Linked DNA regions of Homo sapiens: region 1 is linked to region 2. A link means that fine-mapping ties the variant in region 2 to the expression of a gene that starts in the linked region. Tissue or cell type: nasal epithelium. Region 2 holds a variant in brackets; the other region holds the start of a gene. All regions are shown on one strand. Distances are between the middles of the regions.

The links. PIP is the estimated chance that this variant, and not a neighbour inherited with it, causes the effect.
Region 1: OSBPL6 starts here. The variant in region 2 is fine-mapped to the expression of OSBPL6 in nasal epithelium (TOPMed, PIP above 0.99).

Annotation. Positions count from the first base shown.
Region 1 is chr2:178,190,447-178,198,446 of GRCh38, reverse strand. It overlaps OSBPL6 (oxysterol binding protein like 6), which reads right to left and starts at 3,935. Exons shown (of 25, transcript NM_032523.4): 1 at 3,773-3,935. RefSeq lists silencers at 2,951-3,245, 3,692-4,381.
Region 2 is chr2:178,314,780-178,322,779 of GRCh38, reverse strand. The region is part of intron 3 of OSBPL6 (oxysterol binding protein like 6); the gene reads right to left. Among named protein-coding and RNA genes, the nearest start is that of CHROMR, 95 kb to the left of the region's middle. The variant C/T (reference allele first, on the strand shown) is at 4,812.

The DNA.
Region 1 (8,000 bases), 120 kb after region 2:
CATGCACCTGTAGTCCCAGCTACTAGGGAGGCTGAGGCAGAAGAATCGCTTGAACCCAGGAGGTTGCAGTGAGCCAAGATTGCGCCACTGCATTCCAGCCTGGGCGACAGAGCGAGATTCTGTCTGGAAAGAAAAAAAAAAATTGATACTACACGCCAAGATTCTTCATATTTCTTTTCATTATAGTCAAATACCTTTGACTCTCCTCTTCTTTTTTAGGACAGTAGTTTTAGTTTTTAAACTAATCCTTTTCATTTTCTCCAAACTTGAGAACTCTCATCTCAATCAGCAGTGCCTCCTAACGAGGAGCCTTGGATCTCTCCTGGTAGTCCCCACCTATCTGTTCCCTAAACTTAGTGTATAAATGCTTTGAGTGGTTCACTGTTGGAAAATTTCTCATGGCTCCCTCAACTTCTGTTCATATCATTTTCTAAGTCCACAACAGCCTTCCTCTTCTCAGCATGACCACTTCCTGCTCAACCTTTTTGCAAATTTCTTCCATGAACTCTGGGCAACTCATGCCTATGCATAGGGACTGCATCTTCATCTTTCAACTAATATCTTGTAGGCTTATTGTCTTGTGATAACTCTATTGTCCTTATTTTCTTTTTCCTTAGAACCTTAAAATATCATCACTGGTCCATGCATTATCCTCTTTCTTTTTTTTTAATACAATATCTACCCCCATCCAAAGTTTCAATTACCCATGGTCAATCTGGTTCTGAGAATAGGTAAATACAGTGTAATAAGATAATTTGAAAGAGAGAGAAACCACATTTACATAACTTTTTATTACAGTATAGTGTTAATAATTGTTCTGTTTATTATGATTGTTAATCTCTTACTGTACCTAATTTATAAATTAAATTTTATCATAGGTATCTATGCATGGAAAAGAAGCATATACATAGGGTTTGGCACCATCGGAGGTTTCAGGCATCTACTAGGGAACTTGGAACATACTCCCTTTGGATAACGGGGGAATTACTGTACAATGATCACCTAGAAACTCACCATGAAACCCAAGGACTAGGTCATTATCAATAACAAACATCCATGTGTGTGTTCCTCCCCACATGCTACCCTCCAGTCCATATAAAAGATAACTGCCATTCTAAGTTTTACGTTCATCATTCTCTTGCTTTCTAAAAAGATATGTATTTCAACAGACATATATGCAAAACAGAAGTGCATGTTTTTATTTAGTGTTTGTATTTGGTTGTTTCCCTGGTTTATGTAAATTAGTACAACCATTTGGGAATATAATTTGGCAATACTTAATAAGTTGAATATTCACATAACCTACAAACCAGCAATTTTATTCCTTGGTATTAACCCAAGAGAAACACTGGCACGTGTGCCCAGGAAACAACAATAATCAGAGCAACACTGCAATATCTCAAAAAAAAAAAAAATGGTCAGAGAGGAGAAAAGAGAAACATACTGCGTTATAAGACACATAATGGAATATTTTACTGCAGTGAAAGTCAGTGAACTACAACTACATACAGTATGAATGAATCCAGAGATATAATATTGAGTGAGGAAAAAAAAGTTCCAGAAGTCAATGGATACTATGAGACCCTTTTTCCCCCAAGATTTAAAACCACTTTTTAAAAAGTATCATAATTATGACCTAACCTTTGCAGCAAAACAACAAAATCCTTCTTTTGAGAATGTATGCCTTACCTTTCAAAACTATATTATCTTCTCTCTAGTCCAACAGTTTCATGAGTAAAGTCATAAGAATTTTTATCTCCTTATGCAGTTTACCTAATCCGGTATCTGTGGTGGTACTAAGACCTCCAACCACAAAGATTTCATCTTGGAAGGACTTTATTTTTCTCCTTGAAATAAAGTTAACTTAAGGTTATAGCAATCTAGGGATAAGAAAACTTACATATGTGATCCTATAAAAGTCCAGCAGAACTACCTCATACTAAAGCCAAGAGTCACCTGACAAGTCATAGTAATCTGAAACTGAGGTACCGCCAAAGGTAATCCATCCACTGAATGTATAATGGCGTTATCAACATTGCATCCAAAAATATGAGCAAAACCAGAATTTTTAGGCTTTCTAAAAGCCTGAAATTTTAATTTCAAAATATTTCATTTTTACCTTAAGAAAAATTATTTTTTAGGGAAAAAATATATGAACTCCTACTGCAAAAGAATAATAATAATAAAATCCACCAATCAGGGCCTTTCCCAATGAGGGCTATGCATATTCTCTGTAGGTGATTATTGCTGAATTACACTGCAGCTTCCCTTCGACCTTGGGAACCCTGCTAACTCTCAGAGTTACTGCGAGGTCTTCTGTTTCATTTATTATTAGTCTTTGTCTCCGCAATGCTGTAGCATGTGATAGAAATATCAACGTTGTGAGCTTGCAGTACCCAAAACTGTAGAAATGTTTCCAAAAAATAAAGCGGGGGTTGGGGGCGGGGGGAAGGATGAAAGAAGGAAAAGAAACAAAAACAAAACAAGAGGAAAACAAAGTTAATGTATTAAGATGGGAAATTTCTTATTTTTACCTTGTGAAGACTACATTTCCTAATCAGCTTAGTGATATGTAACCATTAGTATGCAATTTTTAAATTTAAGAAAAGATGTCCAAGAAAATTATTTAGAAAAAAAAAATCACAACTGAATATAATAGACAATTGGCTAAACTTAGCCCAGCAATTTAAAAATGAAAGTTCCTATAGAAAAAACCTTACAGGATTTTGTGTCCAGAAGAGAGAAATAATCTGGCAACCCAGTGGGTTCACTTAGTTTCGTGTCATTTGCTTCATGTCCATTATGTAATGCTTCCCCTAGCTTTAGGTCTCTATGTTTAAGCAACCGTTCAGGTATATCATAGAATTGTCACAAAATCAGTATCTGGTTATAACTTTCAAAAACAGCTTAAAAGGTGCCTTGCAGATGTGTCTATACGCAGCAGAAGCTTTGGGGAGAAAATCCGCTTGTGTCATTACTTCTCCAGGCTTTCTCCTCAGGTCTCCCATTCCCTCCTCCCCCAGCATCCCCGGCGACACGATCTGCGGGCAGCTCCCGGCTTGATGCAGGGGAAGCACGTCTTGACTGCAATGCAAACGCTGTCCCGGTCTGAACCAGGGAAGGCAGACTTGGCCCTGGCCGGGGGAGTGGACGGAGGCTGCCGGGAGGGCTGCAGGGGCGCCAGCAGCGGGTGGGCAGGGGTGCCCCGCGAGGGCAGTCCGCAGTGCACGCGCACAATAAAACCCAATGCACAACTTCCCCAGCCGCTCCTCTCGGCTTCCCCGATTCCCTGAAAGGTGCGGCGTAGGCGTTAGCTCTCGCGGGCGCGGGCGCTCTCACCCGCGCCGGTTCGGTTTTCCGCTGACAATTACATCAGTCCTTCTCCCTGCCCCTGCTTCAATCCCCAGGCAGCCTGCGGGGAGCAGGGGCGCCGGCCCGCGCGAGGGAATGCGAGCGCTAGTGGCAGGCGGCCGGAATTCCCTGGCAACGAGGGGGAGGGAGGGCGGCAAACCGGGACCGCGATACAGACGCCCCCTCCCATCCCGGCCGCGAGAATGGGCTGACACCGCCGCCCCCACTTCCCTGTAGCCCGGGCTATCGGCCGGGGGCGCCTCCAGGGGGACGGCGATGTCCTGGGGACCCGAAGCTGCGGCTGCCCACCCACGCGTCCCTCGGGGTCCTCGGCCCGCCGGAGGCGCACAATGCCCCCGGGCCGCGATGCGGGCACCTTGGCGCCCGCCCCAAGCAATCCCTTTGCAGCTAGGACACCTACCTGGAGGGCGAGCGGTGGCGCCGCGGACTCTGCGGCGGCTGCGCGGCTGCGACGGGAGGCAGGAGGCGGAGAGCCGGCCCCGGCAGGCGGACTGGCGCGCGGGCTAGTGGAGGAGAGGAGGCATGGGCGCCGCCTGCACCGAGCCGCGATCTCCAGCACCGACAGCGGCGGCGGCGACCGTGCTGCGCCTCCAGTGGTCCGCTGCGCTGCAGCCCCTCCTCTCCCACGGGCGGGGCGCGCTGGCGGGGCGGCGCTCCGGGTTCCCCGCCCCCGGCTCCCGCCCGTCCGCCCGGCTGGAGTGGAGCGGCAAGCGGCTGGGGCTCATGCTGCGCACCCGCCCTACCGGGCGCCCCTCCCTGCGCCGCCAGATGGGCTAAGGACCCGGCGCCCTGCGCCCTGGTCACGCGGGGTCCCACAGCCAGGGCTCTCCCCTGGCCCGGCCTCCGTGGGAACCCGTGGTGTCCCGAGATCACCCGCAGTGGAAACCCCGAGTTGCCATCCGCGGGCCTGCGCGCAGTAGCGGAGCCCTCGCCCCGCGCAGTCCGGCGGAGGTGAGCCGGCCGCGCTCGGGAGGGTTGCCCAGAACGGCTCCAGCGCTCGGCCCAGGAGCGCCGCAGCCGGGAGCACTGCGGGAGACCGAATTCCGAAAGGAACGGCTGCCTGGCGGCCTCCGCTCGGGGCTGCCAAACCCATGTCCCTGGGCGCCCTTCTGAGGTCGTCATTTCATACACTTACGCGACTGTGCGTGCCTGCTCCCGTCCCTGACTCGCTCGGGAGCAAAAACTTCCCGGGCCCAGAGAAACACCTGGGTTCTGCGAAAGGAAGAGCCGGTTCCTTCAAGCCCCTGGCAAAGCCGATCAAAGTCAGTCAGTCCCGCCTCACTACAACCCTTCCACACCCTTAAACCCTTCCACACTCCAAGCCACTCCCGGCCTGCGTTCGGTGTGCAGATTAATCTAAAGGCAAATTTGCTGGGAGGGACGGGGTAATGTAAATATTTGTACAGACATTCTGTAAACGAGTGACTGCGGACATGTCAATATTTCAAGACATTTGTGTCATCATCATCTGGGGGTGGGAGGCGGAGGGGGAGTCCAGAGGACATCGACTGGACTTAATGGGAGCTATTACAGAACATGCTGGGGTGCCTTCAAAAATGGAAGATATTGCTTACTAATGAGGCAACTGTGATGGCATTTCATTGTGCCCTGTGCTGACAAAATGATTTGCTATGAAACATAGTCGACTTTATGCACTCCTTCCCACATGCAGTTTCTCTTGAATCTCCAATCTCACCTGTTGGATTAGCTTTTTCCATCTAGACTAGCAATGTTCTCATGTCCTCTGGTCACAAAATAATAGATGCGGGACCCTGCGACAATGGCAGTTTGTCCTTCATTCCTTTGCTGTGAAGACAGGCTCCTCAAGGGAGCAGCTGGGATGCTGACCTCTGCTTCATCACAGCCACCCTTTCTACTTACTCCTTCTGAGTTCCATTAACAGAAACTCTACTGAAATGGCTTTCTCCCTTAAAAGAAAAAAAGCTAAAACCCATGTATTTAAAAAGAAATACAAAAGTGTGAACGGAAATGAGAGTACACACAGCACACAGAATCTTTACCTAAAGAAGTTCTCTAGGCCCGGCGCGGTGGCTCACGCCTTTAATTCCCGCACTTTGGGAGGCCAAGGCGGGCGGATCACTTGAGGTCAGGAGTTGGAGACCAGCCTGACCAACATGGTGAAACCCCGTCTCTACTAAAAATACAAAAACTAGCAGGGTGTGGTGGCAGGCACCTGAAATCTCAACTTCCCGGGAGGCTGAGGCACAAGAATCGCTTGAACTTCCTGAAATCTCAACTTCCTGGGAGGCAAAGGATGCAGTGAGCTGAGATCGTGCCACTGCACTCCAGCCTGGGCTACAAAGTGAGACTCTCAAAAAAAAAAAAAAAGAAAGAAAAAGAAGAGGTTATCTAATTTTTTCTCTGAACCCCTAATAGCAGAGAACCATAAACTATGGGGAAAGAGAGGGGACTACCACAACCTAAATCTCACGTTTTAGTGTAAGAATGTTCTCACGCTTTTCACTCTATTCCATAGTATCTATGTGTGTTTTAATAGTTTTAAAAAATGGCTTTAAACATCAGGGGAAAAAAGTCTCCCCCCATCTCATTGATTAATGGTCAAATAAGAGGTAACGGTACTACACGCATCCATCTGGGGAAATGGGTGGATTAAACACAGCGGGCTGTGCGGAACTAGAGATCAAGGCAGTTTCTCCACCCTATTGGTGCATCAGTGTATCTTGAAAACTCAGACTGGCATAGATATGTAAATATGAATAACAGGCTTTTCACTGCTTTTTGAGCTATGGCAGGATTATTGCTCAAAAAAGTGCCAGTGCCAGAGAGCAAAGTTTTCATTAAGCGTACATTCTTGCTGAGTGTTAAAGTCACAAGTCATATGTTGACTAAAAGGATCTCAGCTCCCCTAATCCATCCCTTTTGTCTCAGAAAATACTTGTTCATGGACTTTTCCAGTGAAGAAAGATAATGATGTTCTTAAAAGCCATCGATGCTATAATTCCATCACATACAACTGAACTGAGCCTCATAGGAATCAGTTTCCCCCATCAATTCATCCAAGTCCCACTTCGTTTTCATTGCATTTTCTTAGATGAGTACTATTTTAGCTGGAGTTTTTAGGAAGGCTGAAGTGCTAATGCTTCCTTGAAAGATGCAAACCCAGGGCAACAAATGAGGAATAGGAGAAATGAGACAGGAAAGAATAGAAAGCAAATACATAGTGATATGTTACCAACCTGGCCTGTGCTTCATGAACCTGAGAAGACACAGCCAATTGCTTAGCCATGCAAAACTGTGCCCAAGAACAGTCTATCAAAGAAAAGACTGAAGAAGAAATTTACCTGAAAGCTACCTCCCATTTCCTCCAGCTTCCAGGATGAGTCGTCATCTGACCTGTCTGACAGCGACTAGAGAAACAAATCCCATACTTTGCAGACAAGGTATGGTCATCATACTAGATTGTTCTATAGGCAACATGGTTATGCTGGAAACTATGTTTCCCCAAATCCCCTTTTGTATATGCTTCCAGACAGACAAAATTGAAGTTACCTGAGACTTAGGAGGCAATACTGAAGCAGCATCTTCATTTGTCTCTCGCCACCTCTAACCAGTGACAACTGTCAAGATGTAATGAAAGTCGTCATTGGTTAGAGGTGGCGAGAGACAAATGCCATTTCTAACCAATGAGAAGAGATGCAGGAGAGTTCCTGTTTGTTCTCATTCTTCCCTGCTCTGTATTCGCTTCTGACAAGTAACTGTGACCACAGGCTAGCTAACAGACTCTTCACAGAAACTCACAGAGGCAGCAATCATAAAGAGCCAACAACCTTCTGTAGATGTCTACACCAACCATCTTTGTACTCTCACTACAGCAGCTGGATGTGCCTAGCCTAATATCCAGATTTCCCTGCAAGCTTGGACTCCTCTGCCCAAATCAGGATTGTTCTCTGATCCCTTAACTCCCCTTTTCAGACTTTTAGACTTTTACTTCTCCAACTCCTCCCACAAATGTGACGTAATGTCTTTTTTTTTTTTTTTTTTTTTTCCTTTTTTAAACAGAGTCTCCCTCTGTCGCCCATGCTGGAGTGCAGTGGTGTCATCTCGGCTTACTGCAACCTCCACCTCCTGGGTTCAAGCAATTCTCCCGCCTCAGCTTCCTGAGTAGCTCAGATTATAGGTGCCTGCCACCATGCCCAGCTAATTTTTTGTATTTTTAGTAGAGATGGGGTTTTATCATGTTGGCCAGGCTGGTCTTAAACTCCTGACCTCAGGTGATCTGCCTACCTCAGCCTCCCAAAGTACTGGGATTACAGGTGTAAGCCACTGTGCCCAGCCCTAATTTCTATAATAAATTCCTTATTCAACATATTCACAATGGTCCTGCTTCCCTGATGGAAGCCCGTCTGCCAGGAGCTTAGGCTGGATCTGCTTCAGGAGGCCTGGATGGGAGCAGTCACTTGGGGACTGTTAAGGCAGGGCAAATAGCTAAGAAACCTGGAAAAATGTGAGGCCAAGAGACTCTAAGGATGAACGCTACCTGTGCTTTATTCAAATAGCAAAAATATTCATAGTTTTGCCTTGTATTTGTTACTTGAGAGAGTTCAGCTTTGAAAATGTTTTTATTATTACTAAATTAACCTACTTTG
Region 2 (8,000 bases):
ACCTTATACTTTGAGATAATTTTCCATAGGAAAAGAAGTTTCCAACGTAATTTTTGAAATAACCATTTAGAAATTACACACTTTAGTAGCAAGTTTCTCCCTCACTATTTAATAGAATATCAACAAAAAACTTCATTCAAATAAATATAATAAAGTACAAGACCAGAAACTACCAGTGAAATACGTTATTTATTCATTCATAGTTCAATTTATCAACATGTCATTATTAGGCACCTACACTTTGCCAGGCACAGATGACAGGGCCACAGAGAACAAAACAGACAAGAGAACTACTCTTATGATGCTTATATTCTAGAAAGAGTTCTTATCATACAAAAGACCAAATCATGGTTAGGACTTCTTTGTAAGCCCACATATTAACCTTGTTTCATGTGGCTACTGCTTTTGCTTACTTTAATCTTCCAGTCAGGTATCTCTGATCTGAGCTTCTCTTTAACGACTCTCCCCGATCCCCATCCTTTCAGGTTGCTGGGCAATAAAACACAGATACATCACCAACTGTTTCCCCCACCTCCAAAAAAACGTGGTAAGAAAAACAAAACCTGGAAAGAAACTTGACCTTAGTAACTATGTAGGCAGGAAATAAAGTAACTAAGCTAGGGAAAGGAAATTAAATCCCCTAACTTCCAAGTCAAGCCATAGATATAGAAATCAATGTGGTATATTTGAAGTGTGATGGAAATAAATTTTTCCTGTATAGATACGAGGGGATACTTAAGATGTTGCCAGAATTATGTGGGTCAGAAGGGTTAGTTAGCAACCACACAAACCAGGACCCACAACTGTAAAATACCTACCACAGTACCTAGCACAAAGAAAACAATATTAGTCTCTTCTCCATTTGATGTTACAAAACAGTTTATATTATGGAAGAAAAATAAGAAGTTCAATCACTTCAAATATAGCACAATATATCTAAACCCTAAATTCTGTTGATTTGTCAAAGCCCAGAGAATCATAAAAAACATTTAGTGAGACATAGCAAGTAAATGAATATTTTTATTATCACTAATGTATGTATTTGTTACTGAAAAAGTTAAAGGACAATTTAGAAAACTACCAGCTGCTACCCATTATTGTAATTGTAACTAGCTTCAAAAAATAAGCTATTCCATGTAACCTCCAGGATGACAATGAAGAAGCCAACAGCTCTTGTAGAAACTCACGAGTCTAGAACCTATCATTGTCTATTCAATAATAAAAAATTAATCCACTACCTTGAATTTTCTCCAAACTCATGGTTTTAAAAAAAGCATAACCCTAAAGTTATGTAATTATATACCAAGCAATTTGTTATTTTAAATGAAATATCTAAGTAATTGAATGTTGTATTTTTTTACACCAGCAGCTATAAAGAAGACAGTTTAAACTGACCATACCCAGTCCTGGCCTCTAGCTAGATTGAGTGCTCCTTGAAGGTGGGGACAAGCTCATCTTCATCCTGGAATTCCATCTTCTCTACCCGTAATCCACCCCATCCTAGCACAACAATCTGCACACTGAAGCCAGTCAAAAATGTGTGGAATTTTTTAGTGCTAATTTGCAGAGAACAGTCCTTCAGCAATCAATTACCTTCCAGCTTTATCTTGGAATTATTATTATTATTTTTGAGACAGAGTCTTGCTCCATCGCCAGGCTGGAGTGCAGTGACACAATCTCAGCTCACTACAACCTCCGCCTCCCGGGTTCAAGAGATTCTCCTGCCTCAGCCTCCAGAGTAGTTGGGATTACAGGTGCGTGCCACCACGCCCGGTTGTATTTTTAGTAGAGACGGGGTTTCACAATGTTGGCCAGGATGGTCTCGATCTCTTGACTTTGTGATCCACCCGCCTCGGCCTCCCAAAGTGCTGAGATTACAGGCGTGAGCCACTGCACCCAGCCTATCTTGGAATTATAAAAATCATGCTCCAATAGGATAGAACTTTTGAAAACAGTTAAAAAGCCTAAGTTTTAAAACAGGAAAATCTAGCGGATTAATCACAGAACTCTTACTTATTCAATTTAAAGCTATGAGTAGTCATTAGGGAACACATCAAATTTAATTTCATGACATCTTCAGTTATAAAAATCAGTTCTTTTCATAAGGCTTCCTTTAAGATCATAATTTGTGGTATAATTTTTGTACTTTTCTTCACAAGATAGCTGTTTTCATATTCTTTCAGAGTGAATTGGAAACACATGCCACTACTTTCAAGGTGTTACACACATTATGTAAGCAAGTTAAATAAAGGGTTATGTAAACCAGTTAATTATTCTTCTAAAATCAAGTTTCCTCTCAAATGCTAAAATTATAAGTTAATTTCCAGGTCAGTTTTTTAAGGAACTTAGAACACACAGAGAAGGTGGAAGTACTTACCCGCCCTCTGTTTCCCCTGATCAGAGATAACTGATGCATATTTAGCTTAAAACCAGGAACCTGGAACACATATTTCACTGTAGCTCTTTAATTTGGTAAAAATATGCTCCTCAGGTTAGTGTTCATTGATCTCAATACCTCCTGAGCAGCAAGTGGAAATGTGCCAACATGACTGTAGTCTAGTTTACTTGGTATCAAAGACATAGGTAAACAGACAGACAATGAGACACTTAATAATAGCTGAATGGTTTGGTGCAACTCACGCGGAGAGAAACGTGATTCTCAAAATGAGAGTCCAGGAGATCTGTTGAATAGGGATCTTGTCATTTACTTACTTAAATTTCATTACAAAGATATAAAGACATTGCTGGAAATGTTTTAGACTGAGGCTACAAATTTCTTTACAGACTCACTTTTTCTATAAATTTAGGACAGTAGTAAAGAGAATTGGTCCACTGCTCTCTGAATGTTAACTCCATTGAAATTGTTCACCTAACTATCTTAGCTAAGCTATTTTTATATTCACAGATTACCCAAAATATTTTCAAAGAAAAATATCCAAAATAATTTAGGAATTTCTAAAGTACGTTCTTCAAGCTTTCAGCTATCTCGCATGTATCTCTTCTAGTTATAGCTGCTACTTTGAACGTAGCAACACTATTTCAGTGGTACTAGTAACTTCTGTAGGATAGTGTTGATGATAATGATGACAATGGCAGTTAATAGTTACTGGTTTTTACATTCCTATCTCTATGCTTTACATGAATTATTGCATTCCATCTTCACAAGCCTTTGAATAATGACTATTTAATGATCTGCCTGACTGACCAGATAAAGGGATATAGAGATTAAGAGAGGCACACAGTCACTAAGGGTTGGAGTTGGAAGGTGACAAGATTTTACTCGAGTCAAGCTTGTATATATGGCCTTCTGAATTAACATGAAAGCTAATGTCAAATGACAAAAATAACAGAAATTTCAAATTGATAAATGAACATATCACAAAGCATTCTTTACCACAATCTTCTGTGGATATAGAGAAGTAGAAATGAGTGAAATAAAAAAGAAAAAATTATAGCACTCTTAAATATGGTACAATCTTAGGGATAATTTCTTTGTTACCCTTACAGCACACTCAAGTTAATTTCCAATTTCTAATTTTATTTTATTTTCAAAAACACACTCAAACCAGACAATTTGTAATTTTCCAGAACTGAGAGCAAGTCAGCTAGCTTTTACTTTGGGGGTATGGTGTATGGTGCAGACAAAAGAACATAAATTTTGCAGCTCTACAGACCAGCATACCAACCCTCATCTGCTATTTACTATGACACGTAGACAAACCATTAACCTCTTTCAACCTCAGTGTCCTCTATCTGTAAAATGAGGATAATAATATCTACCTTACAAGACACTGCAAGTCACAGGGTAGGCATCCAGTGTATGCACAGTGCTGCCCAAAGGCTGGCACACAGTAGGCACCCAATAAATAGCAGCTATCATCTCAGTTATAAACATTACAGGAATAAATATCTAGGAATCTTACGCATTCCCATGCCACAGAAAGATGACTTTCAAACACTTTGCTGGTGTCTGACACCTGGGAGCCCTTTTGGAAGTGAGGAAGCCGTGCCTTCCATGACCATCACGTTACCCAGCAAACCCAGTAACCATGGTCAGCATCACCTCATGATCAGGACATCAAAATTTGGTGAGAGAGCTGTCAACGTGAGTTGAGAGAGATGGCCTAGATATTCTCTAATGGGAAGGCAACAGCAGTGATGGCGGCATAGATTGCATCCTTCTGAATGCCTGCAGCAGAAGATGCATGTGGATTTTCCTTCAAAACAGTTTTTTCTTTGCACTAGCATAAAATATTAAAATCACCAAAGCCAAAAGGCCATGGCTGAAGAAGTAGCAATTATACTACTTTCTCCATTATCTGGCCTTCACTGAAAGATGCAGAAGTGCATTAACAGTAGGTCTCTATATAAGCACCCTTAAAATGAATGAAAGTAGAAAATTTTAGAAACAGTGGCTGAAAAAAGTCTACACAGCACACCTGGGAAATTCTGAAGGGAGAAAAGCAAAGTGAGCACAGTCCCATCCCTTCCTGCACAGAATTATGAATCAACCACTATAGCCTCACCATTGAACTGGCCTGTTTTAAGACACCCTGTATTGTAAGAAATACCATGTGGACCCATCAAGTGGTCCATTGATAGCAAAGAGTAGTTCAGCAATATTGACTATGAAAGAGATAAAAGGTATGGGAATAAACAGCTTTTTAATTCCCACAGTTGCCTTTAAGTAGAAATAGAACCAGAGCTTACTGGTGAACTTCCTCCTTATTCTGTACTCATAACACTCAACAGCATAACTAAATCAGAGGAAACCACAGCAACCAGAGTATAAGCACATACGGATCATGCTT[C/T]ATTACGGCAATTATAAACAAATGGCAAATCACATAGACAAATACCAGGGCATATCAAGAGCTAACGCTCTGGAACATGTAGAGTCAGTTTAAAGGCAGGAAAACTGTGACCTGAAAATAATACTAAAGTTAATCTGTAATTTTCTAAAAGGCTTTTAAAATTACCCAGGGTAAGGATTTTTTAGTATGATAATCACTTACGTGATTTTGCTAACAATACAAGCAAAAAAAAAAAAGTCCATATACATCTTTTTAATATTTATGTAGGTTCATTTGAGACAGAAAGTTGGACTGTTTTGATCACCCTTATAAACTGAGAGCATATCATTCATATATATATCATATTCATTCTTTCAGCAAATATTTATAAGAACATGTATTGATATCAGATCTTATATTTATGAGAATATATGTTCTTTCATTCAGCAAATATTCATCATATACAATATGTTCTCATAAATGTTTGCTGAATGAATGAATAATTATTCTATATATATATATATATATATATATATATATATATATATATATGGTGTCTAAGTTTCTGCTGCGACATAATTAAGTTAAATTACCGTGAGATCAAATGTAAGCAGGAAAGAAGACAAAAGGTGACCCACCTCATGCCTCAGCACCTCAAAGTGGTTTGAAAAACTTGTGCCAAGCTTCCTATGTGGCATAATATCCTTCATACTCATTTAACTTCTAATTTTATTCTTATCGAGGTAGGGTTTGCAATTTCATTATATTTTAATATAATACATAATGATATTTAATATTTGCTGACAATTTTATCATATTTACTACATTCCAAATACTGTTTTAAAGATATACACACACAAACTCATATAATATGACCTTTAGAGAAACACATTCTTTGCAGAAATTTTGGGGGGAAAACAGAAAAATAGAAATTAAAACCACCCATAACCAGCAATAAACTTTTTCAATATTTTGATATATCTTCTTTCAGCTTTTTTTCAATGCATATACACACTCAATTCTTAAAAACAAAATAAAAATTGTACTATTTTTTCAATTTAATAGCCTTTTTGTTTGTTTGTTTTTTGGTTTCAATTAGCAATACAGTCCTCCCTTGGTATCCTTGGGGGACTGACTCCAGGACCTTCTGCAGATACCAAAATCCACAAATCCTCAAGTCCCTTATACATAATGCCATAGTATTTGCATATAACCTATGCACATCTTTCCATATACTTTAAATCATCTCCATATTACTTGTGATACCTAATACTATGTAAATGCGATGTAAGTAGTTGTTATACTGTATTGTTTTTTATTTGCATTATTTTGATTGTTGTGTTGTAGCAGGGGGGATATTTTCAATCCACGGCAGTTACATAAACCATGTTATGTATGTAACTCTTCATATGGCTCAACAATGGCTGGTTCAATCCACGGATCTGGAAACTGTGGCTACAGAGGTTTTAAAAGTAAAAGGTTCCCACAGCATTAAATATTCAAAAGCATTTTTAGCAGCTGTGCAATATTTCACTGTGTGGCTATGAGAGAGGTTATTTAAATATCTCCTGTTGAACATTAGACTGTTTCTAATTTTTTTACCACTATAAAAATACTTTGATAAACATTTTTTTAACTGAAATCTTTAACATGTATCTTTGTTTCCTTAGAATACATGTTTTTAGAAGCTGAGTTACTGGGTCCCATGGTATGACTTTTTAAAAAGACTTTAGATACATATCACTAAATTTCACTCCAAAAAAGCTAAATCAATTAACATGCTTAGCAGTAGTGCAGGAGAGTATCTATTTCCTTGAAGCCTCACCAGTGCTGGCTATTAAAATTTTTGAGAAATCAGCTCTTAATTGGGAGTTGAGGTCAGGAAGTCTGGCACTTGAAATATAAAACATACAGTATGTGCAGAACTTTCCTTTACCTTTGTAAGAATATTTCACTTCCAGTCCAGGAGAGTTACAGTGGATACTGGACAAAGGGAGGTAAGATTTTCTGTTTGTCCAAGTTGAAAATCAAATAAAGCAGTTTTGTAGACCTATGGTCCTTTGGGATGACGTTTTTATAGTTCTAATGAAACACCTAAAAATGTTCTCTGTAAAGTGATCATTTCCAAAACTGAGTGAATAACAGTCTCCTGGGGTGGCTTCTGTAAACAACAGATTCTCAGGCCTTTTCAAGGGCCTACTGAATGAGACCCTCTGGGCTTCATTAACTCATGATACTGTGGCCCTGTCTATTTGGTGTGATGCCTGAGAACCGAACAGGCAGTGCTAATCTTGGATCTGACAGACGAATTTGCTGCTATAAAAATGTCACCCAAAACCAGTCATCTCAAGGTAACAAGAGATAACCTCCAAAGTAAAAACCTGATAAAGGCAGGCCTAGAGAGCTGAAAGGCTTTGGCAGGCACACCAGGGAAAGCAGTGAACAGACTCCTAACCAAGTAGCACTGGGTTCTGAATCATCTGTGGGTAATGAGTATCTGTGTGCCATTATATAATAGATAATGATATTTAATATTTGCTGACACTTTTGTCATATTTACTACATTCCAAATACTGTCTTAAAGCTACACACACACAAACTCATAAAATATGACCTTTAGGAAAACACATTGCAGGTAACAAATCTCTTTCTAGTGGTCTCAATTTCAGCACATTTGACATGGACTGAACATGTACCGTAAACACCATGCAACAGTGACAGAGATCTCCAAAAGGTGGCGATGCCAAGAAAGCTGTGGAGCTGCTCGTTGAAAGGTTAACAGCAGTTGTCAATAAAACTTCTCATTGCAAAAAGATGATCAAAACTTCTCATTCCAAAAGCAATACGTGTAGTAAAAATGCAAAAAATTGAGAAAAGCACAGATAGCATAGAACTCACCTATGATGGCAACAGTTCATAATAACTATTAACATTTTAGTCTATGTACCATTTGATTTACAGTTTCCCAAGCCATCAAGGATGTGAAAAATTACTATTATTGCTCAAGGAAAAAAATGAGGAGGCAATACCTAACTAAAAAATGATTGACAAATGCTGCCTACAAGGTTCACTTCAAAGTATACAGGAGGCCTGGACATCCAGCTTGGCAAGCATTACAACATCTAATAGTGGAGGGGCCAAGAACAAGGGCTCCAGAAACTGGGTTCCAGGGAGCAAATCCTGTCTCCACTGCTCATTAGCTGTTGGCAA